4 linked regions of the Homo sapiens genome follow. The protein of the gene in region 1 interacts with the protein of each later gene in a pairwise test. Each region holds a gene or a part of one and is shown on either strand. Other genes may lie near its edges.

Region 1 (7,227 bases):
CTATAGACATCATCCTAGAAGACATTAAGTGAAGACTTACTGTGTATATAAGCAGATTTGAAATTAAAAATATAAAAGATCTTCTGAAGTTGCAACAGTGCTCAGAAGTATTATAAAATAGAAATAAATCATTTCCAAAAGAGAGATTTCATTTTTGCCCAAAATCTTTCTTCTAAGCTATAAAAGACAAAACTGTTCAATACACAGTTTTGTCAATTTAAATCTACATATTCACCCAATTTTTATAAGATAAAATAAAAATGTATAATTATTGAAAAAAGAATTGAGAGCCCAGAAACAGAGCTAAGGAAATATGCGACTTTAGTGTATGACAGAGGTGGCATGTCATATCAAGAGGAAAGGAGGAAATGTTTGAGAAATGAAGCTTGAAAAAAAAATAGTTATTTAATTAAGTCGGATTCCCTACCTCACATCATATACAAATATCAGCTGAAGATGGATTAAAGGCTTTAAAAGTGAATCAACATTTTAAAAACTTTTGGTAGACTATGTTGGTAAACATTTTAATCCTTGAGGTATAAAAAGACAAGACACAAAGTGTTTTCTATAAAACTTTTGATAAATTTGATTATATTCTTAATTTCAATTTATTATATTTTTCAGTTCTAGAATTTGATTCCTTTTTTTCAGTTTCAAGTTCTCCAGTAAACTCTCAATCTTAATTCCTTGAATATATTAAGTATAGTTACTTTAAATTATATGTCTGAAAACTTCATTATTTGGATCCTTTGTGGTATGTTTTTATTGCCTGTTGCTTTCTTTTAAAAAAAAATTTTTTATTTTGCCTCCTCATATGTGTGGTTATTTAAGATAAAATACCAGTCATTTTCTGTGAAAAAGAGTAAAGATTTTAGGCCTACAATATTATCTCCCTGCAGAAAATTTTCTTCTGGCTAGTGGCCGGGTACACTAGCAATCCCAGGTCACCTAAAATCAGTGAATGATTTAGGTTATTTGAAGTTGGGCTTTCATCCCTGAAATCTGATATGTTTCCAGTTCACCCTTACTCCTAGGGTATAGCTCTTTCAGACCTCAAATCCCCCAAAGCCTTGGGTATTTATCAGATCCCACATCCTTGGCAAACTCTCAACTCCTTTATTTTTTCCCTATAGTTTATTGAGAGTTCATCTCAATCTTCTTAACCATCTCTTAGAAAATTGTCAGGCTATATTCAGATAAAAGTGGCCTCTCATTCTGAACTGTGGGTTTTCTTCTCTCATATCTTGGTCGCATGGTTTTTCATGACCTTGTTAGCTCTCTAATGTCATTAGAGAAATTTTGTTTCATATTTTGTCCACTTTATTCTCATGGTTGAATTGGTCCAGTTTACAGATTATCATCTATCATTACCAAAGTAGAACTTCTTTTTATTAACGTTTACTTTATGCTTTCTTCAGTAACTTGTAAAAGTATCTAAATGTTTGGTTGTTCAATAGGACTTTAAGTAATTCTTCAGTCATTTATGTTAATTGAGAAAATGTATAATAAATATCACTACTAGGTTCAACACCTAGTGGAGATACATCAGACATCCCTTCTGACTTCATTTGAAACTTTGTCTAATAGGATAGAAGAGGCATACATAAATGATTATCATGTAAGATTTTAAAACTTTTAAGGGCATAAGAAAGGTATAGGTCAAGTCTTGCACTGATTTAGAGAGGAGAAATATTCCCTCCATTGCAGAGGATGAAGTTAGGCTTTATAGAAAAGAAGCTTTGAGCTGGGGTTTCAGCCTTACACTGAATCTTGCATTGGGTAAAAACGGGTATCTGTCATGATTCTTGCCTGTCAGTAGTTTTTAACCATGTTGTGCAGAGATGAAAGTAATTCTGATGCAGTAGTAATTGTATTTCCACACATTGAGAAGATTCAAAGCAAAATCTCATAAACAGTGATTTTTTTTGAGAAGTAAGTAGAATTTCTTCCCTGTAGTAGAACTATTATGTGACTAAATGTTTTTGAACTTTGGCTTATTGACCAGTTTGTTTATTTTTCTTTTATGTGCCATTTAAAAATATTTAAAATAAACTTTTATTGAGATACAATAAAATCTACCCGAATATGTCCTGCTACATAACCACAATCAAGCTATGGAACATTTCCATCACCCCCTAAAATTTCCCTGGTCCCCTTCTCGCTCAGTTCCCTACCCTGCCTCTGCCTCAGGCAATTACTAATCTGCCTTCTGTCACTGGAGATTAATCTTTTCTAAAACTGCATGTAAATGGAAGCATACAGTATACTTTTGTATCTGGTTTCTTTTGCTCAACATGGTTTTGAGATACATTCATTTGGGAGTGTATACCCATAGCTTGTTTTTTTGTTTTTTTTTTTTTTTTGAGATGGAGTCTTGCTCTGTCGCCCAGGCTGGAGTGCAGTGGCACAATTTCGGCTCACTGCAAGCTCTGCCTCTCGGGTTCACCATTCTCCTGCCTCAGCCTCCCAAGTAGCTGGGATTATAGGCGCCCGCCACCACGCCTGGCTAATTTTTTGTATTTTTAGTAGAGGCGGGGTTTCACCGTGTTAGCCAGGATGGTCTCGATCTCCCAACCTCATGATCCACCCACCTCGGCCTCCCAAAGTGCTGGGATTACAGGTGTGAGCCACCACGCCTGGCCAGTTTGTTCTCTTTTATTGCTGAGTTTATTCCATTGTAGGTCTATACCACACTTTGTTTATCCATTCACAGAGTTCACATAGGTTTGTTTTTAAACTTACCAGGAACATCTAGCTACAAATTTATCTTTTTTGCATATTGATTACTCATCTTTGCAATTGAGAGACACTAATATCTTGAATGCTACATTTATAATGCTGTAAAAATGGATTTTGAAGAGGTAGCTCTCATATTGCCTACACAATAGTGCCAGTAGAGTATGCTGCTGTAACACAAGTGTTGGTATCATAACATTTTGACCTTTCAGTTGTACAGAGTACAGATGTGTTTTTATGCACTGTTTCAAAGATTAAGCATAAGAATGCTAATACTGGGATACTTATAAATGTTGTGATAGCTAAGTAGACTCTCAATGTCATTAAATAAAAACAGTACAAAATACATTATCAGTTTTATTAGTTATTGCCTGTAAAATAAGGAATTTGGGCTTAACTATGTTTCTAAATTTAGTGTTTCAAAATTTAATACTTTGCAAAGTAAAATTGTTATGTAAATAATGTGCATGTCTTGCTTTTTAAAAATATGACTTATTGCTATAGCTTATGGCATTTGAAAAGGCAATATTTTCTTTTGGAACTGGATTTCTGGTTCAAATACTAATTTAACAAACTATTATACTATATTCTATCATGAGCTTTTCTAGTTTTATAGAACTGTAAAATTTTTAATTAAAACATTTTTTAAGTTTGCACGTAAAATTTCTTATGGAAACTAGCTATCTTAACATTTTTTTGTTTCTTGGTATTTCATCCTTAAAATGTTGATCCACATTTAGTAGATACTCTTGTGTATGTCATTTTTATGTACAACACATGTACAATTTTCTAATAGATTTCAATTTTTAAAAGCATAGGCTCTAAATTTAATGACTTGAGTTCACATTTCCACCCTGTCACTGTGAAACTTTGGGCAAGTAATTCATCTCTTTACAGTCAGTTCCAGGCCAGGCTCAGTGGCTCACGCCCATAATCCCAACACTTTGGGAGGCCAAGGTGGGTGGATCACTTGAGCCTGGGAGTTTGAGACCACCCTGGGCAACATAGTGAAACCCCATCTCTACAAAAAAATAGAAAAATTAGCTGGGCGTGGTGGCATGTGCCTGTAGTCCCAGCTACTCAGGAGGCTGAGATGGGAAGATCACTTGAGCCTGGGAGGCGGAGGTTGAGGTGAACCAAAATCGCATCACTGCACTCCAGCCTGGGCAACAGAGTGAGACCCCCATGTCAAAAAAACGAACTAAACTCAGTTCCTCGTTTGTAAAATGGGGATGAAAGTAATTCTTGTACAGATTTAGGAGATAATTTACAGAGTCCTTAACACAACAACTGGACCAAATACATACTTGTTGAATGAATGGGTAAATGCCATTCTTTGTTGTGTACAAACCTGCAACTATTTTTTAAAACTTTGATTTGTTATTAATGTCAACTTGGGATTTTGCTTTAAATCCCAGGTGAGGGGATAGTTACTTCCTGAACATGGCTATAATTTATCAAATACTGTTAGATAGTGATTACTTGATAAGAATGATAAAAGGCATTCTTGAGATTGTATACTGTTCTATTTTTATTCATACATATTTGGATGCTATTCAAGGTTATTGGCTATAATGGGCAGGGAGGAGGACCTAGCAAGTCTTTAGGTCTATGTGACTATTACATTTAAAAAATTTTTTTTTTCTATTCAGTCCCTGAAAAACAGCTGAATGATATTGAAGATTGTGACCTCAATGTGGTGAGACTGTGTTTTCAAGTTTTTCTCCCTGATGAACATGGTAATTTGACGACTGCTCTTCCTCCTGTTGTCTCGAACCCAATTTATGACAACCGTAAGTACTTCATTTTCTTATATTTGTAGTCTTAACTTGTTTTTTGTAATAGTTTAATTCTTAAAATTATTTTGGTAATTAGGAAAACAATATATTCATGATAGGAAAACTTCCAGACATTAGAGAAATATATAACAGAAAGGAAATCTTCTCTAATCTCATCCTCCAGAGATAATCACTATCCTTAGGTGCATATTTTACCAGTTTCTTCTTCCTGTATATACACAGATACATTGTCATCATCATCATTTTTGACACAGTACAATTTTGGCAACTTAAAATCATAAGTGATGATTGTTTTAAAAACTAACTTTCTTCTTACCATATATCTTGGACATTTTCCTTTTAATCACCTTATTCTTTTCAGTAGCAGCATATTTTATTATGTAGTTATATCATAATTTTATTAATTACCCTCTTACAAGGCATTTGGTTTGTTTCTTTTCTCATTTTTTCTTTTTGGCCTAGCAAACTGTACTGCAATACATATTCTTGTATATTTTTTTTTATTGGTTTTTTTTTTTTTTTTGGAGACAGGGTCTCACTCTGTCACCCAGGCTGGAGTGCAGTGGTGCAGTCATGGCTCACTGCATGGCAAATGCTGGCTCAAAGGATATGGATATATCTCATTTTGAAAGATTATGAAACTTTCCCCCAAAATACTGTGTGTGTGTGTGTGTGTGTGTGTGTGTGTGTGTACGTGTGTGTGTGTGTACATAGACTTAGATATACGTCCACCAATGGTGTATGATATACCTGTTTTATGTGTAGAAGGATAGAGAGACTTAGGGCTATAAAGGAAGCATGAAAGTTGTATTGCCATAGGGAGATGTATTGCCATAGGGAAAATTGTATTGCCATGGGGATGTGGTCATGATTTATGAAGATTAATCTGGTGACAGTGGGTAGGATTGATTGGCGGAATCAGAATTTAGAAGCAGGGAGATGTAATTAGAGAATATGTCATTACCTAGAAATGAAGCCACAAAGTCTAAAGTAAAGCAGTTAGAAAGGAAGTGGACAGATAAATAGATGATTAATGTATTTAGTGTCATTTATCTATACACTAAAACTTTTATTCTGTGAATGCTTTTCCTCAAATTCTTCCCTGCAAAAAGAAATAAAATATTACTAAGGTAGCAACTCATTTTTTTGAAAATCCTTTATATTTAGGTGCTCCAAATACTGCAGAATTAAGGATTTGTCGTGTAAACAAGAATTGTGGAAGTGTCAGAGGAGGAGATGAAATATTTCTACTTTGTGACAAAGTTCAGAAAGGTATTTATTTATTTCATTGAATTTAGAATAAATTTTAGATTAATAGATGCAGTTACTTTGTTTTCCCATTTTTTTTTTTTTGGTTTCTTATTGACTAGATGACATAGAAGTTCGTTTTGTGTTGAACGATTGGGAAGCAAAAGGCATCTTTTCACAAGCTGATGTACACCGTCAAGTAGCCATTGTTTTCAAAACTCCACCATATTGCAAAGCTATCACAGAACCCGTAACAGTAAAAATGCAGTTGCGGAGACCTTCTGACCAGGAAGTTAGTGAATCTATGGATTTTAGATATCTGCCAGATGAAAAAGGTATGACATTTTGCTGGTAATAATTTATATATTTCTTGAAGTGGTCCTGCTAATAACATCTTCTTGTAATATTCATTTGAGTACAGTTATGTATATTCATAATTTATGTTTCTTTTCCTGGAAGCTTTCTGTTGGTTTTTTCTTTATGCTCTTTGCATCTCTTTATTTGTTGGGTTGTTTTTTGTTTTGTTTTGTTTTGTTTTTGAGACAGAGTCTCACTGTCACCCAGGCTAGAGTGCAGTGGCGCAATCTTAGCTCACTGTAACCTCCTCCTCCCGGGTTCAAGCGATTCTTCTGCCTCAGCCTCCTGAGTAGCTGGGACTATAGGCACGTGCCACCACGCTGGGCTACTACTTTTGTATTTTTAGTAGAGACAGGGTTTCACCATGTTGGCTAGGCTGGTCTCTGCATCTCTTTCTTCAAGAAGAGGTTTGATTAGTATGGAATAATTTCAAAGTATCTAAACTGCTTACTAAAATTTCTATTTTATTTTTGAAGGTCTGTTTTAGTCTTTGTGCACTTACCACTCAGAGAGTAGTCTCTATATTGGTTTCTTATCAAACCTTATTGCATTAGTTGACATTATTGACTTGTGTGATAAGAAAACAAGATGAATATTTTAAACAGCTTGTTTTGGGTTTTTTTTGAGACAGGGTCTCACTCTGTCACTCAAGCTGGAGTACAGTGGCATGATCGTGGCTCACCAGAGCCTCAGCCTCCTGGGCTCAGGTGATCATCCCACCTCAGCCTCGTGAGTACCTGGGACTATAGGTGCGCACCACCACACTTGGCTAATTTTTGTGGGGTTTTTTTGTTTTTTTGTTTTTTTGTTTTTGAGATGGAGTCTTGCTCTGTCTTGCCCAGGCTGGAGTACAGTGGCGCAATCCTGGCTCACTGCAGCTTCTGCCTCCTGGGTTCAAGCAATTCTCCTGTCTCAGCCTCCCAGGTAGCTGGGACTACAGGCATGCGCCACCACACCCGACTCATTTTGTATTTTTAGTAGAGATGGGGTTTCACCATGTTGGCCAGGCTGGTCTCAAACTCCTGACCTCAGGTGATTCACCCACCTCAGCCTCCCAAAGTGCTGGGATTGCAGGTATGAGCCACTG
Region 2 (7,227 bases), on another chromosome or scaffold:
TGGCCGGGACACCTATGAGGAAGTAAAGCAGGCTGGGAGGTACAGGTGAGTCTCCACCGCGGGCCTGGCCATCCAGGGAGCTGGACACGGGGCTCCCTCCTGGCTCGTGCTTTGCTATTTACCGGGAGCCCGTGAGGGGAGCGTCCAGGCCCTGGGCCATGTTCCTCACGCCCAGGACTGGGAACTCGAGGGATGGAGGTGCCATTGTGGGGTGGCCTGGAGGCCCTTGCCATTTGGTGCTGCAGACCCATGGCCCCAGGGCTCCAAAGGCACAGCTTTGTGAGGTGGCAGCTGTTGAGCTCGGGGGACGTGGCTGGCACTGCTGGGGAGCTGGCACTATATCTGAATTACCAGACGTCAGGGACATGAGGCCAGTGGCTCCCGCATGAGATGCTGCAGCTGAGAATTCACTCAGCTGCAGATGCTCAGCGGGCAGGACGTGGGTGTGAGGGAGGCAGGAAGCAGAGCTGCTACCCCAGTGCCCATCCTCTCCCTGGCATTGCACACCTGGGCCCCAGCAAGGGTCCTTTTCTGTGCTCCTGCCACTCCCTTCAGTCAATAAAAGCGTGGAGGCCTTCCCCATGTTCCCAACCCAGGTTTTCTGTTATGGCCTTGCACAGGAAGGGGACCCTCAGTCTTTGGGGCAGCCGTGGGTTCTGCCACAGCAGGGCTGCTAGTGTCCCTAGTGGTGGTAGCAGGAGGCAGAGCCTTGCGAGTGTCCCAGGATGAGACCCCACTCCCACTGTGTCCCCCAGAGAATGCAAGCGCACGCAAGGGGTGTCCACCACAGACCTCGTGGGCCGCATGCTGCTGGTAACCAAAGCCCATCACAGCAGCCAGGTGAGTCGGCGGCGGAATCCCCGAGGCCCCTGGGTCGAGGTCTCCAGGGGAAAGGAGGGGCACCTCCCTGCCCTCTCAGGGTCCTCCTGCCCACTGCTCCCCATCCCCAGCCGGTTCTGGGGTGGCCACGCCGGGAGGGCAGGCCCCTCAGCCCTGCTCTGACCTTCTGTGCAGGAGATGTCCTCTGAGTACCGGGAGTATGCAGACAGTTTTGGCAAGGTGAGTGCGGCTGTGCAGGGAGAGCTGAGCACGCAGCTGCAGGGGGCTCCCCCGGCCACCTGTCCCAGCCATCCCTTGGGGAAAGGCCAGCCCAGAGCCTCACCCTCCTCCCTCTGTCCCTGGCACTGACCAGGCACTGACTGCCAGGTTTGGCTCACTGGTGGATGCTGGGAGGGAGGGCAGGCGGGTGGTGGCACCGGCTGGCCGGTCACGGCAGCCACTGCTTGGAGGAGCAAGGATTTGCCTGTGGACAGGTGGCCTCTAACCAAGTGGCCTGGCCCTCTCTCCCATTGTAGCCCCCTCACCCGATACCCGCCGGGGACATACTTTCCTCAGAAGGCTGCTCCCAGGTGACCAGACAGTGGTCTCAGGGTACCAGGTCCCTCCCAAGGGCTGTGTGCACCTGCCACAGGGCTCCTTGCCTCCTCCTGGTGGTCGCTTGCTGGGCTGAAGTGGTGTCTGCTGCGGTGCCTGCTGTGGTTGTGGGGTGGCGCCACAGTCCCACCTGCCACCTGGCCTGGCAGTGTGTCCCCTGCCCGAGATGACTGGCTGGAAATGGGATTGCTGGCAGGTGACAGCTGAGGGTTTGGTGACCTGGTGAGGGCAGCACCTGGGAGGCCTCCCCCGCCAACCTGCTCCCTCTCTTGGCTTGCAGTGCCCTGGTGGGCGGAACCCCTGGACCGGGGTATCCCAGTTCCTGCAGACATCTCAGAAGATCATCCAGTTTGCTTCTGGGAAGGAGCCCCAGCCAGGGGAGACAGTCATCTATGTGGCTGGTGCCTTCGACCTGTTCCGTATCCTCTGGGCCTCTGCTGCTCCCCTACATGTGCCACATGGGGTGGGACCCGGGGGCCTCACTTGACTCCTTGGGGCCCCCAGACTGGGCTGGCTGGTTTGCAGGGGAGCAGCTGTCAGCAGGGAGGATGGCGGGGAGGCCCTTGGGCATGAGCTGTCAGGGAGCTGCTCCCTGTCATCCCCATCCCGACTGCTTCTTAACCTGGGTGCAGACATCGGGCATGTGGACTTCCTGGAGAAGGTGCACAGGCTGGCAGAGAGGCCCTACATCATCGCGGGCTTACACTTTGACCAGGTCACTGCCTTCTTGCTCCCTGGGCCCCTGGGCAGCTGATGGGCCCTCGAGGGGCCCTAAGCGTTGCTGTTAGGTGCAGGTGGTCTCTGGGAAGGGGCCCCAGGTGAAGTCACAGGAGACCCTGGGGGGTGATCGTAGGCTTCTGGGGTCCAGGGCTGTCCTGTCTGGGGCATCCCCACAAGGGCGAGCAACCTCCCCGACTTCTTCCCATGAGGGACAGCCGGGAGGGGCACACCCTGTCCCCCCAAAAAGTCTCCGGGCTGAGCTAGCCGCACTCTGGCCGCAGGAGGTCAATCACTACAAGGGGAAGAACTACCCCATCATGAATCTGCATGAACGGACTCTGAGCGTGCTGGCCTGCCGGGTGAGTGGGGGCCAGGAGCCAGCCCAAGGATGGGGAGACATTCCCACAACATCCCCCCTACTAAGGGCCTCCCTGAGCCAGGGCAGGGGGGCTTGGGTCACTGGCAGAGCTGCACCCAGCACCCCGAGTTCTGTGGCACCTGCCCATACCTGTTTGTTGAGGCATGAGGAGGGGTGGTCAGGTCTCCAGATGCTGTTCCTTCTTGTCTCATGGAGGAGCCCCAGGGGTCCCCAGCCTGCCCAGCCCATCCCTGCTACTCACTGGCAGCCCCGCCCCATGTCTGAGCCGTCTCTCACCACCCTGTGGCCCTGGCTTACCAGTAGCAGGGACCGAGCAAGTCTTTCTGCCCCCACTGTCCCCACAGTACGTGTCAGAAGTGGTGATTGGAGCCCCGTACGCGGTCACAGCAGAGCTCCTAAGTCACTTCAAGGTGAGGCTCCGCATGGGCTCACCTCGTTCCCTCTGTTCACCTCTGTTCCTGCATGGGCTGGGAATGCAGGCTGGCTGTGGGCTCCTAGGCGGGGCCCAGGAGGTACCTGGGCTGAGGAAAGGGCAGGGTCAGCTCTCCCAACCCCCGGGGCCTGTGCTGGGCTGTGGGTGGCGACGGCCGCTGCCTCCCCGGGGAGGGCTCCTGACCCCACTCCTTCTCCAGGTGGACCTGGTGTGTCACGGCAAGACAGAAATTATCCCTGACAGGGATGGCTCCGACCCATACCAGGTGGGTCATGCTGGCCCTTGCTGGGCACAGGGGTTGCCATTGGCACCTCCCAGCCATTTAATGACTCACTGTGCCTGCCTGGGAAACGGGCATGGTGGCGCAGCTGCTCCGACTGCACCACTCCCATGGGACCCTGGGCGCTGGTCTCCCTCTGGGGCAGGGCATCAGATGGGTCTTGGGGAGGTCAGCAGGGACCTTCATCCCGCTCCTCCTCTCTGGACCCCCAGGAGCCCAAGAGAAGGGGCATCTTCCGTCAGATTGACAGTGGCAGCAACCTCACCACAGACCTCATCGTCCAGCGGATCATCACCAACAGGTGCAGTTGGGTGGGGGCACCTCGGAGCCGCCTCATGGGCGCTCTCCGCTAGACTTACCGTGCCCTCCCCCTCGGAGCCGCCTCATGGGCGCTCTCTGCTAGACTTACCCTGCCCTCTCAGGTTGGAGTATGAGGCGCGAAACCAGAAGAAGGAAGCCAAGGAGCTGGCCTTCCTGGAGGCTGCCAGGCAGCAGGCGGCACAGCCCCTGGGGGAGCGCGATGGTGACTTCTAACCTGGCAGAGGCCCTGGCCGGCCCTCCCCCTGCTCTGCTTCTGCGCCTTCTGCGTTTGGACATAGGACTCTGCAGGGCCGCCCTCTCTAACTGGCCTGGCTCTGGAAGGGCTGGTGAGGACTCTGCCTCCTTGCCTGCCTACAAGGTGCCTGGTTTGCAGCAGGCTCTCCGCTCTTTCCAGCAAAGCTGCTCAGAGAGGGTGTCCAGCACAGTGGAGAGGCCGGAAGTGAGACGGGCAGACGGCACCTGCAGCCTGAAACGCACCGCTCCTGCGTGCGCCCCCACCTGGTCCCCGGATGCCCCCACCACCTGGACAGAGGCCACACTGACTGCCCACCCAGCTGTGGCGGGAGGTGCAGAGCAGAGGGCTTTAGGGAGCAGTGACTGCGGTCACCCCTTTAGTTCTCTGGGTGTAGACCACACCACCTCCCACTGGGCACCCCCCAACACGGTGTCCTGCCACCCAGCGCCTGGCTCCAGGAAAACACGCTTGCCTTCCTTCCCGGCAGCTTCGCCACTCTCCTTATGGACTCTGTTCTGTTTGTACATGGCTGACGGAAATCTCTTTGGTACAACCGAATAAAGCCTGGTGGCAGTGCTGCGCGGGGCTCCCAGCCCTGCTGGGAAGGACCAGGGAACCACTCAGCAAGGAGACCCTCTTGGCCCTGCCCCCACCATGCACCCAGCAGCCGGGAGTGCAGCGGGCAGCCTGGCAGTGAGTGAAACCCAGGCCTCCAGCCCTCCAAAGCCTGGGGCCACCCCCTGTAGCAGGCGATGCTAGAATAAGGAGGAGAGCCAGAGCTGAGGCTCCTTGCCCCTTGGCCCCTCCAGGGGCCATGGGATCTCTGTCTCCCACACCCCTGTCACGGCCCGCCTGGAGCAGCCCAGAGGCCGAAGAGGTTCTTACTGCAGCCTCCGGGAGGTGTCTAGGGAGGCCATAGATTGCCTGGTCTCGCCGCATTCAAAATGAGGCTTATGATCAGTACTTTTTTCAGCCCCACATTCCTCTCCAGAATGGCCTCTGCCCTACAGCACCTGGCCCATGTGGCACCCCATGGGCCTGTCCTCTGCTGTTGTGAGGTCGACCTCACGACCCAGCACAGGAGCTGGAGGCGAGGTGCACGCGAGGCTCTCCACAGCCCAGGAAGGCAGCCTGTCACCCTGCTCTCCGAGCCAGGGGCCAAGGTGTGGGGGGCACAGGCCATCCTCATCCTGCCAGGCCCCCGCTTTCAGGAGTGGGGTGGTGCCAATGCTCCCACTCAGAACCCTGGACTGCGGGGTCCCCTGAGCAGAGGGACCAGCCAGTTCCCCATAGACAGATTGGTGCTGGACAGGGGCTGCCTGGGCCCCAGGCTTGGGGAGGGTAGAAAGGCCCTGCAGTGCTGCTGCCTGGGCCCGGAGGTGGGCCTGGCCCCGTAGCAGCATTGGAGGCCAGAGCCCAAGCCAGTTCCGGAGTCACACCCAACGGCGGAGGGAGAACCTACCCATCTCCCACCTTCAGCTCTGGGGAGGCATGCTCTGGGCCTCTGGAGCCAGGGCTCAGGCCCCCAACTCTCCTCCTTGCCCCTGCACCCTCGGACTTGGCCTGGCCAGAAGGGATGGGGGCAAGAGGAAGGCAGCCAGGGGCTCCAGCCCATGCCCTCACAGATTTGGCTCTCGAGTTGGGGAGCGAAGGGCTGGGGGAGGACACTGGGAACCGGGCCAGCCGTGGCCCTGCACTTCCCCCAGGGAGCACCAAGGCTAGGCGCGGCTTCACCGCGGGGCTGGGTCGTGGCCAGCTTCGCCCCTGGGTCTGAAGACCTCTGGGCGGCCCAGGCCAACCTTGCCCTGCCGCCGCACACTCGGCTGCCTTCTCATACCCAGGCTTGGGGATTTCCAGGTCCCGTTCCCCTCGTGGCCTGGCTGCCAGTCCTCCAGCACCCCTCACTCCGAGGCCGCCTCATTTATTTATTCGTTTGCCATTAACTGCGGGGTGAGCGGAGTAGGGGAGACCTGGGGCGCCATCCCGCGCCGGAGGGGCCTGGGGTCACCGAGTGGGACGGTGGGGGCGGGGGGCCCCCAGCGGTGCCAGGAGAGGTCCGGGCTCAGGCGGCGAGGCAGTCGGCTGCGCGCAGGGACAGGAAGACGTTCGCCTTGCACTGGTAGGTCCCGCGGCCGTCGGGGAGCCGCTCGCACCTCTGCAGGTTTGGGGCGACGTCCTGGACGCACACAGCCTGGGGGGCAGGCAAGCAAAGGCTGAGGGGCCGCCGCACCCCCACCCACGTCCTGCCGCCGCCCCCCATCAGTCCCCGGCACGCCGGACTCACGAGGCTCCGCAGCCTGGGGTGCAGTTGCAGCTCCGGGGAGGCGCCGGCCCCGCCCGGGGGTTCCGCCCCTCTGTAGGGCTGGGAGCGCCGCGCGTACGGGGACCTGCGGAGGCCGGACAGCAGCCCCGCGGCGCGGCCCACCGAGTAGGAGCTGTGCCCCGCCGCTGGCTTGTACCACGCGAGGCCAGGCGGCGCCAGCAGCAGGCACAGCGCCAGGGCGGCGGCCGCCAGTGTCGCGGACCGGGCCATGGGGACGCCGGCTGACTGGTGGGCGGCGGCGTCCGGGCTCGGAGCAGCCACCGCCTGGGCCGCCTTATATCTGCGGCGAGGGCGGGCCGAGGCTGCGGAGGGCCGGGAGGGGCGGCGGGCGGGCTGGGGTGCAGCGGGCGCGCGCGGAGGAGCCGTCGCACCTCCGCATCCCAAAGGAACCAGCCGCGCGGGCGAGCGCTGGAGGCGCGCAAGGATCTGGCGCTTGGTGGGAGCCCAACGCCCCCTCAAGCTCCCCACCCATGCCGCTCGCGCCCTTCAGGCCCGGCTTGCGTGGGCCGCAGTGGCAGCAGGGGAGGGCCCACGGGCGCCCAGCCCTAGGAGTCGTCCCCCAGGCAATCCCCAGTACTCCTGATGCTGGAGAGCCAGCCACACTGCACAGTGCCCCGGGGGCGGTTTCTACCACCCTAAGGGGTATTCTTGGCTCCAGGCATCAGAGTCCATGTGGCTTGTGGGGCCCTCATTTCTTTCATGCCCACTGGGGAAGGTTCCACCAGCAGGGCTGTTACTGGCGGGGTCCTCTGGGAGGGGGGCAAGAAGGCCAGCCACACCAAGGCACTGGAGCTCCACGACTCCTGGCCTTCGATTGGAGGCCCCTCTCTGCCAGCTCTGCCCCTTGGGGGGCACCAGGCAGGACTGCCAGCCGCTCTCCTGGCAGGTGACATCAGCCTTCAAGCTCACTGTGCCCTCACCATTTCATGCTCCCCCAAGGTCCTGGTCATGTCTTCTCTTGGGTATCTTCCCAGGACAGGCACTGGCACTGGAGCCCTGGCACTTGTTTCTGGGTTCCATGCTTCCCAGGTGTGATGGTGAATGCTGAGTGTCAGCTTGACTGGATTGAAGGATGCAAAGTATTGTCACTGGGTGTGTCTGT
Region 3 (7,227 bases), on another chromosome or scaffold:
GAACTCCTGGCCTCAAGTGAACGATCCCCCTCGGCTTCCCTAAGTGCTGGGATTACAGGTGTGCCACCGTGCCGGCCAGATTTGTGTATCTTTTTAGTGTTTCGCATTGATGGAATCTTCCATTCAGTGGAAATTTGTTGAGTGCCTGTTATGTGCCTAGCAAGTGAAACTGAAGGCAGAAGTTGTATTCTAGGGGAGCTGAGATTCTAGGGATTCTTATCATAATAGTCTGACTTGGTTATTAGAATCACCTCCAGTAGATTACTTTGGGGTAAGAGAAAGAGGGATAAGTACTTGGCTGTATGTTTACCAAAAACGGAATTTAAATCATTAACAGTCCCTAATTCATGAATAGAGCAATAAAGAAATCAAAAAGATAATGGCAGGCTCTCTCAGATATTTTTGAAATGTATTCTGAGGAAACACCTATATTCACTCTGATAAAAGCTAGATAAAAGGCCTAAATTTTCTGCAGTAGTCAATTTAAGAACAAATAACTTTTCTAGATAGTGGCATTTTTCCTTTGTGACATAGTAATGCAGATTCACTTTGTAGCTAACTTTTGCAAAGAGTTCCTGCAGAGCAGCTTTTTTTCTACTTTGTATTCCTCCATGTTTTTTTCTGCTGCCACTGCCCACAGAGTTCAACTTTCTGTTTATGGGGCCGATGTAGGACTCAATGTAATAAAGCAACAGCAGTGTCTTGAGAAAGAAGTTTCATTAGCAAATAAAACATTTGCTAATAAAAAATTTGCTTCTAATTTTTAAAGCTGAAGAAACGTGCCACACTGGAAGGATAATCCACGTCACCTTGTTAAAGGTGATCTTGGCTAGGCGCGGTGGCTCACGTCTAATCCTAGCACTTTGGGAGGCCAAGGCGGGTGGATCACTTCAGGTCAGGAGTTTGAAACGAGCTTGGCCATCGTGGTGAAACCCCGTCTCTACTAAAAATACAAAAAAAAAAAAATTAGCTGGGCATTGTGGTGCATGCGTGTAATCCCAGCTAATCGGGAGGCTGAGGCAGGAGAATCGCTTGAACCCGGGAGGCATAGGTTGCAGTGAGCTGATATCGTGCCACTGCACTCTAGCCTGGGTGACAGAGCAAGACTCCATCTCAAAAAAAAAAAAAAAAAAAAAAGGTGATCTCTTAGACTTAGATTTAATATACTGCAATATGTTGTCCCAGAAGCGAAAGACATTTACAATTGGCTGGAAGTAGAATTTGAGCCACTAAAACTCTGTGAGCAAGTCATTCGGTGATCACTGATGGGTAGCATTGGACCAACAACTAGGGCATCTAGATTAGAGTCCTCATTGTGCCCACAGAGTGTAGACTTCTAGAAGGATACCAGTTAGTGTCAAGTGAATGGATTAGCTGACTGCCAAGAGGCATTTGTCAACTTCTTGAGTTGACCATATATCCAAGGTCAATACCTGAGCGTTAGGCTTCCATAACCAAATTTATGAGACAGAGTGATTCCATTATCTCAGGAAAAGACTCAAACATTCCTAAGAGTGACTTTTAAATCGGAAAGTAAACCAATCATGTATTTTAGTGAGAAATATAATTTAGTAGATTATGGCAGCCTTTCACATTTCCCTATTCGGAAGGGGACTGCATGAAGAATCTAAAATAACTTGATAGGAATGAAATTAGAGCTGGGAATTTTTTTTTTTCTCTTAAAGGCAGATTCTAAGTTAGGGAATTTTATTTGTATGCATATACCACACCTTATTGCAGTAAAGATATATGGATGCTTATAAGGAGGAAGTGTTAGAATGTTGTAGGATTTCAGCCTTGTACCCATTTTACATTAGAGTTAACCTTAGACCTGAGTGCTCCCATGTGTGGGTGCCCTCCTTGCTTGGGGATGCGATCTGCCAATATTTGCCTCAGTTTTGTCACCCACTCTCTATGGGTACACACTTCTGTGCTTTGCTCTATCCCAGCAGTTATTTTGTCCTTGGGTTAACAGTTCCTAAAAAAAATGACATATTCCATGGTAAAATTGAAGTCCATATAAATGGGGTAATATGTGAAATTCTTTTCTCACCGCTATGTTTGTGAGATTTATTCATGTGTTCTATGTAGCTGTTCTTTTTTGAGCATTTTTGTTTATTTTATGAATACACCATATGTGAATTCTCCCCAGTTTGGGGCTATTAGAAATAGTGCTGCCATGATAATTTTTGTGTGATAATTTATATAAAAGTAAAACTGGTATTTTCCTTGTTATTGGTAATAAAATATTCTATTGGCCACAGTAGTTGTCTTTGTGAATATTTAATTGGTTGTAGTTGTGTTTTTTAGAGTTTCATTTCCTTTTTACATACTTGTGGGGCTTTTCACGGTAGGTTAATGTGCATAGTGTGGGGCAAAAGACCCAGCATAGTTGTACTTTGGATTCATTTTTGGTAAATTTAGAGGAGGTTGAGGCTTGATGATTTTTTAAATCATTTTCCAGATTTCCAATGCTATCATTTATACTAAGTTCAGAATTTTAGTTGGAAAATTTCCTTTGGCAGTTACATCTTTTGTTTTGCTTACTGTAGGTCAGATTTAATGTACTACAATATGTTGTCCCAGAAGTGAAAGACCTTTACAATTGGCTTGAAGTAGAATTTAACCCATTAAAACTCTGTGAGCGAGTCACAAAGGTAAGCCTTTGTATTTAAGTTCTGGTTGTTACCACAGAGTTGGCCTTCTTGCAGTTTTGGGTTGTATTCATATTTGTTAAGAGAGAAGTTTTGTCCTATGTGTTGGAATTCAGTGCACATTTCATTGTCTTTTTTCTTTATTTCAAGAGAAAAGATATATCTGATGTGCTCAGCAAACCTTTGGAGGTTAATTAGCAGCATGACTAATTTAGCCATTGCTGCCAGTCACCTTCAAACAAGTATCAGTAGCTTCATGATACATTTTGTATTTCTTTGCATTGGATGATGTTTTTGTATATTAAAAAAAAAAGAGTTTTAGATGTTTTAGTATCTCTTATGTAGAAAGTGTGATTCTCTTTCAATTTAATGGATTTTATAGGTTCTAAATTGGGTTAGGGAACAACCTGAAAAGGAACCGGAATTGCAGCAGTATGTGCCACAACTGCAAAACAACACCATCCTCCGCCTTCTGCAGCAGGTAAAAATAAAAAAATAAAAAAAGTTTTGTGATGTTATGTGCTCATCATGAAACTAAAAACTGGAAAAATCTAGAACTGCCTAGGAAGTGAGAACCTCCCCAAGTTCTGCCCCTGGCAAAAATTAGTCTATTTATTAATTTGAAAATCAGAATTATTATATTTACATATTTTGTAACGGACGCTTTTGTTTTTTGGCTGAACACTGTCTTTGGGCATTTTTCCTTGTTAGTAATGTAGGGCTACCTTATTCCATTTAAGGTACTGTGGTGTATTTATTCAGACTCTCTTGATGAAAACCTGTATTCCTAGATTTTTTTTTTCCCTGTTAGAAATCTTGTAGCATTGAGCATCTTTCATACATGTATCTTTGCATACTTCTATTACTTTCTGTGGCATAAGAAGTGGAATTAGTCATAGGGTTTATGGATTTAAAGCTTTAATAGCTATTCAGAAGCCTGGATTAATAGACCCCCCACCATGAGTGAATGAGACAGCCTTTTCATATATTTTAGTCCAGGGGCTTAAGTCAGTAAGTGCTCCCATTTTGTTTTCCATTTGTTGCATTTGGGAAGGAGGGCGTTTTATTATATTTTCATCTCAGTATTTGTGCACATTTCATTGACCTGCTTTCTTTTATGTGAGTAGTGTTATTTCTTATGTGCTATACAAATAATTGAAGGCTAATTAGCAGTATAACTATAAATAGTAATGCTGCCAGTCTCCTTCAGACAAAAATTCTATAAGAAGTGTTTAAATATATTCGGTAAGTAGCAGGTTTTTAGGCTTTTTTGTTTTACAACAACTAGGATTTGAAAAGATTATAGGTTTGAGGAATAGTATGATAATGGTTCTCAAAGCATGGAGTTTAGAGTCGATGGTCTGGGATTAGCATTCTGGCTTTAACAATGTACTGCTAACATAAATTCTCTGGCATAATTTCTACTTCCCATGACTGTCATGAGATTGCACATAAAAAGTGCTGAATAAACAGTGGCTAGTGTTATTAACCCTTTGTTTTCTATGCAGGTGTCACAGATTTATCAGAGCATTGAGTTTTCTCGTTTGACTTCTTTGGTTCCTTTTGTTGATGCTTTCCAACTGGAACGGGCCATAGTAGATGCAGCCAGGCATTGCGACTTGCAGGTAGGTATGTGCTGTAAGGAGACAGGAGAAGGCCCTTGAGGGCTAGAAAGACACATACCTTCTGTTTCTCAGCTTTTGGTACAGTGATACCATTTTAAAGTTTACTGAGTGAACTTTTCCAGCTTTTGTATATGACATTCTTCTGTTACTTTTTGACTTCATGCTTACTTGTGGATTTAACCATTGATAATTTAATTTTCAAAGGTTCGTATTGATCACACTTCTCGGACCCTGAGTTTTGGATCTGATTTGAATTATGCTACTCGAGAAGATGCTCCGATTGGTCCTCATTTGCAAAGCATGCCTTCAGAGCAGATAAGAAACCAGCTGACAGCCATGTCCTCAGTACTTGCAAAAGCACTTGAAGTCATTAAACCAGCTCATATACTGGTATGCATCTTCCCGGGGAAATAAATCCCAGAAGTTTTGAGGGACTCTTAACGCCATGCCATGTCTTTTACAAAAAGGTTTGAGACAATATCTGAGAGAAGGGATTTATGATATGTTTCCTATAGAATTGTACTTGGTAGTTTTGTTATTTGATCAAATACACAAATCATTGAGCTTTCTTCCATTGAACAAAATACTACTCTGTGTAGGTAATGTAATAGGGTGGATTATGTTACAGAAACAACAGAGTGGACATAGGATTCCTCAAATAGTGAAATACAGTGACTGGATTTTTCCCTCCTGCTTAAGTTATTTCTTTTTTTTCTTTTTTGAGATGGAGTCTCACTCTCACCCAGGCTGGAGTGCAGTGATGCCATCTCGGCTCATTGCAATCTCTACCTCCTGGGTTCAAGCAATTCTTGTGCCTCAGCCTCCTGTGTAGCTGGGACTACAGGCACGTACCACGTGCACAGCTAATGTTTTGTATTTTTAGTAGAGATGGGGTTTCACCATGTTGGCCATGCTGGTCTCAAAGTCCTGGCCTCAAGTGATCCACCCGCCTTGGCCTCCCAAAAGTGATGGGGTTACACGCATGAGCCACTGCCTGTAACAAGTTATTTCTTGTATGTGAGCTCTGTTAATGAACACCTAAGGTAGGTTTGGTGCAGAGAAAAGTTGTCTTATCTAGGAGAGCTTCTTTAGCTGCGTCATTGCTATTAAAAGACTGAATAGGAGCAACACCATAGCATTTAATACCGAAAACAAACAGCTTGGATAGTGTCATCTTCCATTATCAAATGCAGATACATAGAAAGGCAGTACATCAGGATTATTTTGTAATTTCTTTGATGCCTAATACCAGAGAATGTTAATTTTGGTCATGTAAAAAAATTCATTTGTTTTTGAAGCAAGAGAAAGAAGAACAGCATCAGTTGGCTGTCACTGCATACCTTAAAAATTCACGAAAAGAGCACCAGCGGATCCTGGCTCGCCGCCAGACAATTGAGGAGAGAAAAGAGCGCCTTGAGAGTCTGAATATTCAGCGTGAGAAAGAAGAATTGGAACAGAGGGAAGCTGAACTCCAGAAAGTGCGGAAGGCTGAGGAAGAGAGGCTGCGCCAGGAAGCAAAGGAGAGAGAGAAGGAGCGTATCTTACAGGAACATGAACAAATCAAAAAGAAAACTGTCCGAGAGCGTTTGGAGCAGATCAAGAAAACAGAACTGGGTGCCAAAGCATTCAAAGATATTGATATTGAAGTACGTAGCATCTTAGTTATTAAAAAATTAGTTTTATCCAGGTATTTTGTACTCTTAGAACCACAGTCCTTTACCATTTGTTGGCTTACTGGGTTATTTCATGCATTTTGGTACAGCTGGTCATGACTAAATCTGTGAGTAAGCATATGTTTATTGCTCTGTGAAGTTTTGTGTTTTTTTTGAGACGGAGTATTATCTTGTCGCCCAGGCTGGAGTGCAGTGACGTGATCTCAGCTCACTGCAACCTCCGCCTCCCGGGTTCAAGTGATTCTCCTGCCTCAGCCTCCCAACTAGCTGGGATTACAGGCGCCTGCCACCATACCTGGCTAATTTTTGTATTTTTAGTAGAGACAGGGTTTCACCATGTTGGCCAGGCTGGTCTTGAACTCCTGACCTCAAGTGATCTACTTGCCTCAGCCTCCCAAATTGCTGGGGTTATAGGTGTGAGCCACCACACATGACCTGTTTCATAGACACCTTATACACATAGCCTGAAGGTAATTTTGTACACTATTTTACATAATTTTGTGCATGAAACAAAGTTTTGAATGCATTTTGACTGACCTGTCACATGGGTCAGGTGTGGAATTTTACACTTGTGGCACCATGTTGGTGCTCAGAAAGTTTTAAAATTGGGAGCATTTCAGATTTTGGGTTTTTGGATTAGGTTTGCTTACCCTATTTAGTAGAGTCTGGGTAGATGTAGGTTGGAGTAGTGAGAAAAGGATGTATGGATATTTTTTTCCTTATGGTCAAATGGAAATAAGGCTATTGTATAATATTTTTACATTTCCTAAATTATCACCCATTGTAACAATAAAAGCAATGTAGGATTTTATTCTAGAAAGCAGTGAGTTATGTTAGGCATTGCTTGTTTCTCTTTATTAACAATTGTGCATTTGTATTACCTTTCAGGACCTTGAGGAATTGGATCCAGATTTTATCATGGCTAAACAGGTTGAACAACTGGAGAAAGAAAAGAAAGAACTTCAAGAACGCCTAAAGAATCAAGAAAAGAAGGTAAATGAAAGGGTTGGTAAACCTTTAACATACCAAGTTAAGAGAGATTTTTTAAAACTACGTGTGTTTTCGTGTCATTCAGATTGACTATTTTGAAAGAGCCAAACGTTTGGAAGAAATTCCTTTGATAAAGAGCGCTTACGAGGAACAGAGAATTAAAGACATGGATCTGTGGGAGCAACAAGAGGAAGAAAGAGTAAGTTTTTTATTTAATTGTAATATTTTTAGATTGTAATAAAATCCTCTGCCAGTAATGGAACCAAGGATTCAGAATTGCTTTAT
Region 4 (7,939 bases), on another chromosome or scaffold:
CTTTTTCCGAGTGGGGCCAAAGAAATCTTAAGCAGATACAGTGGTCTCTAACTTGGACAAGACTGCTGTGAAAGGAAGACAAAGTGAAGTAAATCCAATATAAGCCCAAGCGACAGGCAGTAAGTCACAAACACAAAGACATCACACAGACTACCCAATCAATTACGATTCCTGACTTGCCTGCTTCTGGCTCCCAAATGTGGAGGGGGTTCAGAGGCAGGCAAAGCAGAGGCCAGACTGGAAGTGGCAGTCTCCATAAGGAAAGCAAGGGGGCAGGGGTCTTTAGATGATTATCTTTTAAGTTTCACCTTTATGCCAATAATCAAAATGAAGGTGCATCAAAATGAAGTAGCATCCAGTATCTAGAAAAGACATAACCTGAATATTTATTTTCTTAATGTTTCATATTTTTTCATACTTTTCCTCTAGTAAATCATATTATGTTCAGATACAAACAATTTGTAATTAGATACAAATTACTTGGTGAAGGATTCCAACCATCAGGACAAAACTGCCAGCAGCATCTGTTAATAAATGGCCTTCTGCTGCCATCCACTGTCCAAGTCGGTTTCTATAGGCCATTCTAGCAGCCTTACTTCAGCTTAATAATCTTATCACCTCTCCCCCAATAGGTGTGGCTTGCTACAAGTGGTTTCAACATTTTCCCACCCCACACCACACGCTGGCCTTGTTTCCCAGTACCACCACCTTTTGCCACCTACTACAGTAGCCTATTCGCTTCCCTTCTGATGCGCATTGTGCATTGTTTTGTGTGTGTGTGTGTGTGTGACAGGGTCTTACTCCAACCCAGGCTGGAATGCAGTGGCACGATCCTAGCTCACTACAGCATTGAACTCCTAGGTTCAAGCAATCCACCTGCCACAGCCTCCCAAGTAGCCAGGACTACAGGTATGTGCCACCACCCCAGGCTTTTAGTTTTTAAATTGTACAGAGAGGCTCTTATTATATTGTCCAGGCTGGTCAATATATTATATTATATATTATATTGTCTCTGGCCTCAAGTGTTCCTCCCCCCTTGACCTCCCAAAGTGCTGGGATTACAGGTGTGAGCCACCGTGCCCGGCCATGCCTAGTTTTTCTAGTTACACAGGCAGTGTGTCCCCACCTGCACCAACTACATGGGGCTCATCCTCAGCACAGCCGCTTAAAAAAAAAAATTATGGCTGGTTAACAGGTGTAACCCCTGACTACTGCAGAAAAGCCTCTCTAAAAGTGCTCTTCTCTACTGCCCAACCCCATTTCCACTCTATAAAAGGTGCTCAAATAGCTGAGTTGATTTTTAGTGCAGTGCAAACTCCTGAACCTGGTATTAATGATATTTATAGCCTTGTCCCTATTTATTTGCCCCATTTTCTCTCTCCCCTGTCTGCACAGGCCCTGTACTCTGGTTCAATCTTTTTGAACCACTACTGGAAACATTGTTCACATAAGCTGATTTTCATACGTTGCCTTGAATTATATTTTACATCTATTCAGCTTTTTCAGCTTGTCTTATCCCCCCAACTAGACTGTTGACACCTTAAATACAGAATGAGCCCATGTGATAATTTCCTCCTGCACCTGCTCAGCACCTAGTGCTACTTAATTGCCCACAGTAAGCAAGTAAGTAAATGATTTGATAGCTGCAGGGGACCCCAGCACTCTTACCTGTCATTCTCAGGAATCTCTTCCACATTGCCAAAGCCAGGTGTGGGCACTGGGCAGTCCATGTGTGAGGGCTGGGCAATGTGGGGCTCAAAGACGGGGCTGTCCCCGGGAGAGGCCGCGTGGGCTTTCTCGGCATCCAGCCGAGCCAGTTCGTAGTCACAGACGAAACACTCGAAGCCGTTGAGGTAGTTAGGCAGCAAAGGATCATTCACTCCCCACTCCCGATGCTTCAGACTATCCAGAAGAAATTGGTTGGTGATGCCCCCAGGTTGCTTGTATGCCAGGTATTTCATATACTCCTCATCATTCTTGTCCAGAAAGTCAATAAACTCTGCCAGCTTCTGAGGAGACTCAAAATCATCAATCAGGATGACGGAGTGATTGTTCGGCATCCAGTCCCTCACAGAGGGAGAACCGCGGTACACGGGCACAGCGCCCAGGTGCATGGGACGCCACAGTTTTTCTGTCATGTAGTCGTTACAGATGGCATTTTCCAGGGCCAAGTGGAACTTATAGCGGGACAAGAAAGCCAAGAGCTCTGGATCCTCGGTGGTGGCCGTGGCTGTGTCCTGTAGCCGCGCGGTAGGCAGCTCCCGATTCTGCAGGCATTTCCCGTAGGAGTCTACCTAGACCGGGTACAGTAAGGCTGTCATGAGGGTGCGGCCCTGGAGGCCTGGACACCTGGAGTCCTGGACACCTGGAGTCCTGGACACCTGGAGTCCTGGCCTCAACCCGCCCTCTCCTTTTCCTTCCCTCCGGCCCGCCCTCACTCACCGGGATGTGGCGCATGAGCTCGCGCACGTAGCGGTCCCGGTCCGCTGGCACGTCGCAGTGTGACTGCAGATAGAGCAGCGGCGCGTAGCCGCGGCGGCGCCACTCCGCGCGTTCCATGGGCGGAGGCACCGGGCGGCGCAGATAGGCGGTCCCGGGCAGCCACTGCAGCGACAGCGGGTAATCCGAGTGGCGACTGAAGGTGGAGGTAAGATTGAAGAGGCGGATGCCCGGGCCGTGGCTCAGCAAGAAGTTGTTGAGGGGCGACTCCTCGTGGAGGAGCGCCCAGCTCTGGTGCGCCAGGCGCGGCAGCGGGGCGGCCGACGCGCGGAAGTCTGTGCCGTAGAAGAGCAGCGCGCGCGTCCGCGAGTCCCTCAGCGCTCGGCGGTTCCGGGACGCCACGCACGCGCCGCGCGCACACTCGATGCGCTCCGAGTCTCCCGGGAAGTGGGGGAATAGCCCTGGGCTCCACCACAGCAGTACCGGCAAGTCCCCCGCCTCCTCCCTCCCTGGCCGCGGCGTCCCAGAGCTGCGCGTCACCCCCACTGCGCCCAGCGCCGAGGGCGGCCGGAAAACCGCGCCATCCCACGGTTCCGCCCACTCCGCCTCCCCGCCGGCCTCCCTCTCCGCTACGGACCCATGGCCGCTGGCTGCACAGACACTGAGCACCCCTAGAAGGACCAACACCACCCTAATGGGGCCGGCCGCCATGTCCACTCCGGCAGCCGGCGCCCCCTCGGCCAGCACCGACCCCGCCCAGCGGATAGTCGTGACCGGACGAGGCCCTACGCCACGGGGGCACGTGGCGCATGCGCAGCTCGCTCAGCCGACGGCCAGGACTAAAAGCAAAGTGAGCTTTCGGGAGTAAAGATGAGGCTAATGGTTACATCTTAATTTATTTTATTTCTTTACAAATTAAAGATGCATTGAAAAATAAACCAATGAAGAGAAATGAGAGGTCCAGAGCAGGGGCATCCCAGGTGGGGAGCAGGCAAGCCTGGCCACCATCAAGCCTAGCCCTTGTCCTGCCCCCAAGCCAGTTGGGGTTGGAAGATAACTGTCAGCCACTCAGTCAATACCAAAGCCCAAGCGGTGTCCCAGCAGGAGAGAACGGCGCTCCAGCTGCCTCTGCCTCTCTCCCCAACAACCCCGGGCCTGGAGAAGCAGTGTTTCTCGTGGGAGCTCAGAGTGGGATGTGAACTGGCTCTGTGAGGTATTGCAAGTTGATGACCAGGCTCCCTAGGCTCCCTACAGAACCATCCAGTGTTGGGGCCTCTCCAGCTGGAAAGGAAGCTGGTACCTCTACCAGATCTTAATATATTTTGCAACTCAGTTCTCCGGTCACCTCTGACAGTGTGCCTCTCTATCCACGGAGTGATCATCAATCATTGCAGGAGAGAGCGAGCGAGCAGTGAAAGCAGAGAAACTTGACTGCTAACCTCCAGGCCCAAGAAGGACTGACCACTTTTCTCTCCACCACCTATGGGCTATACCCCAGCTCTTGTGCACCTATATGTTTTATCCCTAATATAGGAAGTTGTGGATGACACTGAGCCCCCTGTAGTAACCTTAGGATCCCCACTCTTTCCTGCCTGCCCCTCTCCTCTTGGGAGACTGGTCCAAAGGGACACATAATATTGCCAGGGTCTGGGTGCCTCCAAACCCCCAATACCGAATCATATACAGTGAACTGAGAAGCTACATTCATTATGACAGGATTAGCAGGAAAAAGAGGGTAGAATGAGGGAACAGGGGCACCTTCCATCAGCAGGACATGACAGAGTGGCAGGATACTTGAGCCCAGAAAGAAGGTGTCTCCTTATATCTCCCCCTCCCCCCAGAGAGACTGAGGTCAGCTTACATAAGATATGTTACTGTCCCAATTTCTCTGACATCCTGGGGTGCTTTCTGGAAGCTAGCCTGGGCCCTATGCCATTTACCCACTTGCTTTAGCTCAGTAGCTGCCGAATCTCCTTGTGCATATGACAGAGAAAGTCCACATAAGATGCTCCCCCACTCAGACTCTTGTCTTCCACCAGGAAGTGCTTGAACAGCATCTCCATCTTGTCTTCCTGTTTCACCACGGTAAGCTACGGCCAGAATTCAGGGTTCATAAGGCAAGGCCAAAGGAAATTAAACATGCCCAGAAATCTCATTAGGCAGTCACTTACTCATTCCCCACCCAACCCCCACTTCTAGGTGAGGACTTGACAAGGTAAGAAATCCAGGGTTCAGATCAGTGTTACCTTCATGTACCGGGATCTCTGTGCCCGTAAGCTATCAATGAGGCCTCGAACCTTCTTGGACAGTGGATTATCCAGAACTGGCAGAACACTCTAGAACACAAAATTCATTTATCCTTATGGTAAGGCACTCTGAGTTCAGTCAAGGTGGGGCAGCATACATGTATGCATCATCTGAAACAGGCAAACCTGGGAAGAATGACAGCAACTGCCCTTGTCCCCAAGTGTTCCCTGATATTTGAGGGTACTAGCACACTAACTATATTGGCTCCCAATTGTTTCACAAAGTATACTTCCACACCCATATTCTCCTTGACTCCCTGCCCTCACCAAACCACTGGTGATCTGACTGAAGGAGGAGACGCTGAAAAGGCTCTGGACAACACCCTGTTGGACGCTTGCTCCCACCCAGAGGAAGAGGTTGAGCCCATTCTCCAGTAAATATATATCCCCATTGCTTAGACGCTCTTCAGAGGCTCGAACTGCTGGTGGTTCGGTAGTACTCTCAACGGGAGACTTTGTCTAGACAAAAGGAAGGGAGCAAAAGGTTACCAAGGACCATAAGACAAGTCTGCCCCCCCGCACCACACACAAAATTTTGAAAGCTAAGTCCTCAGACACCACCCCTTCTGGGGTCTCAGTAACTCTCTCAGTGTGAAAATTACATCAGCTAAAATACATAAAAACAAATTCCACTAGTGTCTGACTGATACTAGCCTATCCTTTCCTCCTCCTAAGAGGCCCTTTGCTCCGTGCAAGATCTCATACTCCAACCCTCAATCGCACCAAAGGTAAGAGCCGAGGGTAGAAGAAGACATTGGTCTCAGTCACATCCATGGAGGTAACTAGCTGTCGGACATAGGCACGGTCATCAGTAGTGACTTCAGCTCCAGGCTGCAGGACATCACTCTTCAACACACAGTTCAGGTAAACTGGGAGTAGCTTCATGCACTCAGGAAGGATCAACTGAGGGGATTATCAAAATAAAGTCAATGATCATGAGAAATCCCTCCCAAATGCAAACATTTGTCCCAACAACCCCACCTCCCACTAATATACTTGCCCCACCTGTCCTGCAGAGGAGGGGCTAGCACAGTTCTTTCTGTAACAGGCCAGGATCTGGGCACACTGGGTGATGAGCGTGTCACGAACAGCCTTCACAGGGCTATTCAGGACTCCCCGATATGCTGGATGGGAAAGCAAAGATAGTCACTGGTCAGCTGCCCATCATGTGTGCATTCCCACCATCACAACTACCCACTCACCATCCTGGACCTCTCAGCCCCAATCCCACCCTGCCCTGCTTCTACCCTCACCAAACTTGGCCATGTAGTTGATGAGCGTGTCAGTCTCACAGTTTCGATATAGATCAGCCAGCTGGGTGCAGCAGTTCAGGGCCAGATTATGGATGCGGAGCCGACGCTGCCCTGCACAGCTGGTGTAAAGCAGGGCACACTAGGGGAAAGGAGAAAGGGGGAACTCACACCCCTCCCTCACAAAGGCCCTTTGCTACACTATTAAACTGGAAGAGAGAAATGAGCCACTCCCGTGCCCTGTCTCTTCTTTTAGTGCTCTCTACCCATTCCTCACCCTCTTCTATACCAAGCGAATGAAACACTTCCTGCCCAGCCCCGCCTCCCGCCTGCCACCTGCAGGAGAGCTCCGCTCTCTTCATTGAGCCGATCGTCATGCTTGAACTCCACAGTCACTGTTTTGTCCCCATCTAGCCCAGCCAGCTCCACATCTGTCGTGTTGCTCATGTAGAAAGCTCCAAAGAAATCTACAGCACGGATACCTGAGGCCACATGGACAGGGTCAGGGCAAAAAGTATGACAAGTGCCACATGCCTCCCTTCCATATTTAGCCCCCCAACCTGCTCTTCAATCAGGACTGACCAGTGCTTGTCCGGACCCGCATCACAGCATCAAAGCCAACAACCTTCTGGACATCACGACGCAGGTCACTCAGGAACCGCTCCTGGTCGTTCTCCACCTGCAGGCCCCCAGGTCCAGAGTCATGTCACTGACTAGACATAGCTCATCGTGCAGACAATCTCCCTGTACCCCTTCCACTCTACAAGGCCACCTAATTATCATCATCATAACAGTGAGGATGATAATGATGATGACAATAATAGCTTTTAAACACTTAGACTGCATGCCAGGTACCACACAGAGTGCTTTACATATAATTATTTAATTCTGTTGACAAATCCTACTTAAGTATTTTAACACCATTTTGCAGATGAAGGAACAAAAGAGGAAGTACTTAAGAAATTTATCCTAGGTCATGTAGCTAGTAAGTGGTGGGGCCAGAATATCAATGCAGGACTGATTCCAAGGCCCATGTTCCTAACTGCCACATTCTCGGGCTCACTTCTTCAGACTATGCAGTCTTCTCTTCCAACACTATTTCTTCTTTTTTGGAGACGGAGTCTTACTCTGTCGCTCTGGCTGGAGTGCAGTGGCGCAATCTCGGCTCACCACAACCTCCACCTCCCGGGTTCAAGGGATTCTTAGCTTCCTGAGTAGCTGGGATTACAGGCGCCCGCCACCACACCCGACTAATTTTTGTATTTTTCGTAGAGATGGGGTTTTGCCATGTTGGCCAGGCTGGTCTTGAACTCCTGACCTCAGGTGATCTGCCTGCCTCAGCCTCCCAAAGTGCTAGGATTACAGGTGTGAGGCACCGTGCCTGGCCCCAACACTATTTCTATTAATGAGTCAGCCACTGCATATATAAGCAGATATTCCCAGCCCTGCTGCCACCTGCTGCCCCAAATCCCACACCATACCTGAAAGGAAGCATATTTGTAGACAGAGCCACCAGTGAGCTGGGGCACAACAGAGAGTGTGGCCACATCCACATACTGGTTAGGGAAGAGAAAGAGATCTACACAGCAGCCTTGGGCCACACACTCTTTGGCCAGGGTCTGATAGGCACCTGTCTGAGGCTGGAACAGAGTCTAGGGGGAAAGAAAATGGGGAGAAGAAAATGTTCAAATATCTCAGCTCCGCCCTATTTGAAAACTGTATATCTAGCATGGGATATTCAAATTCATGGAAGACTTCAGATCTACTTCCAAGGATTTTCCAATAGTAAAAAATTTTCTTTTATATTATTTTTATTTTTTTGAGACAGGGTCTCACTCTGTCACCCAGGCTGGCATAGAGTGGCATGATCTCAGCTCACTGCAACCTCTGCCTCCCAGGTTCAAGCGATTCTCCTGCCTCAGACTCCCAAGTAGCTGGGATTAC

Evidence for each region.
Region 2: the proteins of REL (region 1) and PCYT2 interact in binary tests that used the Homo sapiens proteins (3 or more experiments, as listed by UniProt).
Region 3: the proteins of REL (region 1) and EIF3A interact in binary tests that used the Homo sapiens proteins (3 or more experiments, as listed by UniProt).
Region 4: the proteins of REL (region 1) and POFUT4 interact in binary tests that used the Homo sapiens proteins (3 or more experiments, as listed by UniProt).

The regions. Positions count from the first base shown.
Region 1 is NC_000002.12:60,912,489-60,919,715, forward strand, and holds part of REL (proto-oncogene c-Rel), read left to right. Parts: intron 1-4,388; coding exon 4,389-4,529; intron 4,530-5,702; coding exon 5,703-5,807; intron 5,808-5,905; coding exon 5,906-6,118; intron 6,119-7,227. UniProt on the Homo sapiens protein: Proto-oncogene that may play a role in differentiation and lymphopoiesis.
Region 2 is NC_000017.11:81,901,386-81,908,612, reverse strand, and holds part of PCYT2 (ethanolamine-phosphate cytidylyltransferase), read left to right. Parts: coding exon 1-45; intron 46-755; coding exon 756-840; intron 841-1,014; coding exon 1,015-1,059; intron 1,060-1,355; coding exon of another isoform or gene 1,356-1,409; intron 1,410-1,714; coding exon 1,715-1,853; intron 1,854-2,066; coding exon 2,067-2,149; intron 2,150-2,435; coding exon 2,436-2,513; intron 2,514-2,877; coding exon 2,878-2,943; intron 2,944-3,165; coding exon 3,166-3,231; intron 3,232-3,458; coding exon 3,459-3,547; intron 3,548-3,668; coding exon 3,669-3,780; 3' UTR 3,781-5,864; coding exon of another isoform or gene 5,865-5,993; 3' UTR 5,994-6,086; coding exon of another isoform or gene 6,087-6,335; 3' UTR 6,336-7,227. Other genes in the region: NPB (neuropeptide B preproprotein), read right to left, coding at 5,865-5,993, 6,087-6,335. UniProt on the Homo sapiens protein: Ethanolamine-phosphate cytidylyltransferase that catalyzes the second step in the synthesis of phosphatidylethanolamine (PE) from ethanolamine via the CDP-ethanolamine pathway.
Region 3 is NC_000010.11:119,056,654-119,063,880, reverse strand, and holds part of EIF3A (eukaryotic translation initiation factor 3 subunit A), read left to right. Parts: intron 1-2,552; coding exon 2,553-2,657; intron 2,658-2,769; exon of another isoform or gene 2,770-2,898; intron 2,899-3,036; coding exon 3,037-3,135; intron 3,136-3,742; exon of another isoform or gene 3,743-3,870; intron 3,871-4,162; coding exon 4,163-4,279; intron 4,280-4,483; coding exon 4,484-4,669; intron 4,670-5,577; coding exon 5,578-5,925; intron 5,926-6,840; coding exon 6,841-6,945; intron 6,946-7,027; coding exon 7,028-7,141; intron 7,142-7,227. UniProt on the Homo sapiens protein: RNA-binding component of the eukaryotic translation initiation factor 3 (eIF-3) complex, which is required for several steps in the initiation of protein synthesis.
Region 4 is NC_000010.11:73,767,545-73,775,483, reverse strand, and holds the start of POFUT4 (GDP-fucose protein O-fucosyltransferase 4 isoform 1 precursor), read right to left. Parts: upstream 3,209-7,939; 5' UTR 3,151-3,208; coding exon 2,443-3,150; coding exon of another isoform or gene 2,382-2,442; intron 2,350-2,381; coding exon of another isoform or gene 2,318-2,349; exon of another isoform or gene 2,295-2,317; coding exon 1,669-2,294; exon of another isoform or gene 1,664-1,668; intron 66-1,663; coding exon of another isoform or gene 1-65. Other genes in the region: protein transport protein Sec24C, read right to left, coding at 4,389-4,529, 4,686-4,775, 5,013-5,204, 5,469-5,648, 5,751-5,869, 5,999-6,137, 6,332-6,477, 6,578-6,674 and 1 more. UniProt on the Homo sapiens protein: Protein O-fucosyltransferase that specifically catalyzes O-fucosylation of serine or threonine residues in EMI domains of target proteins, such as MMRN1, MMRN2 and EMID1. Attaches fucose through an O-glycosidic linkage.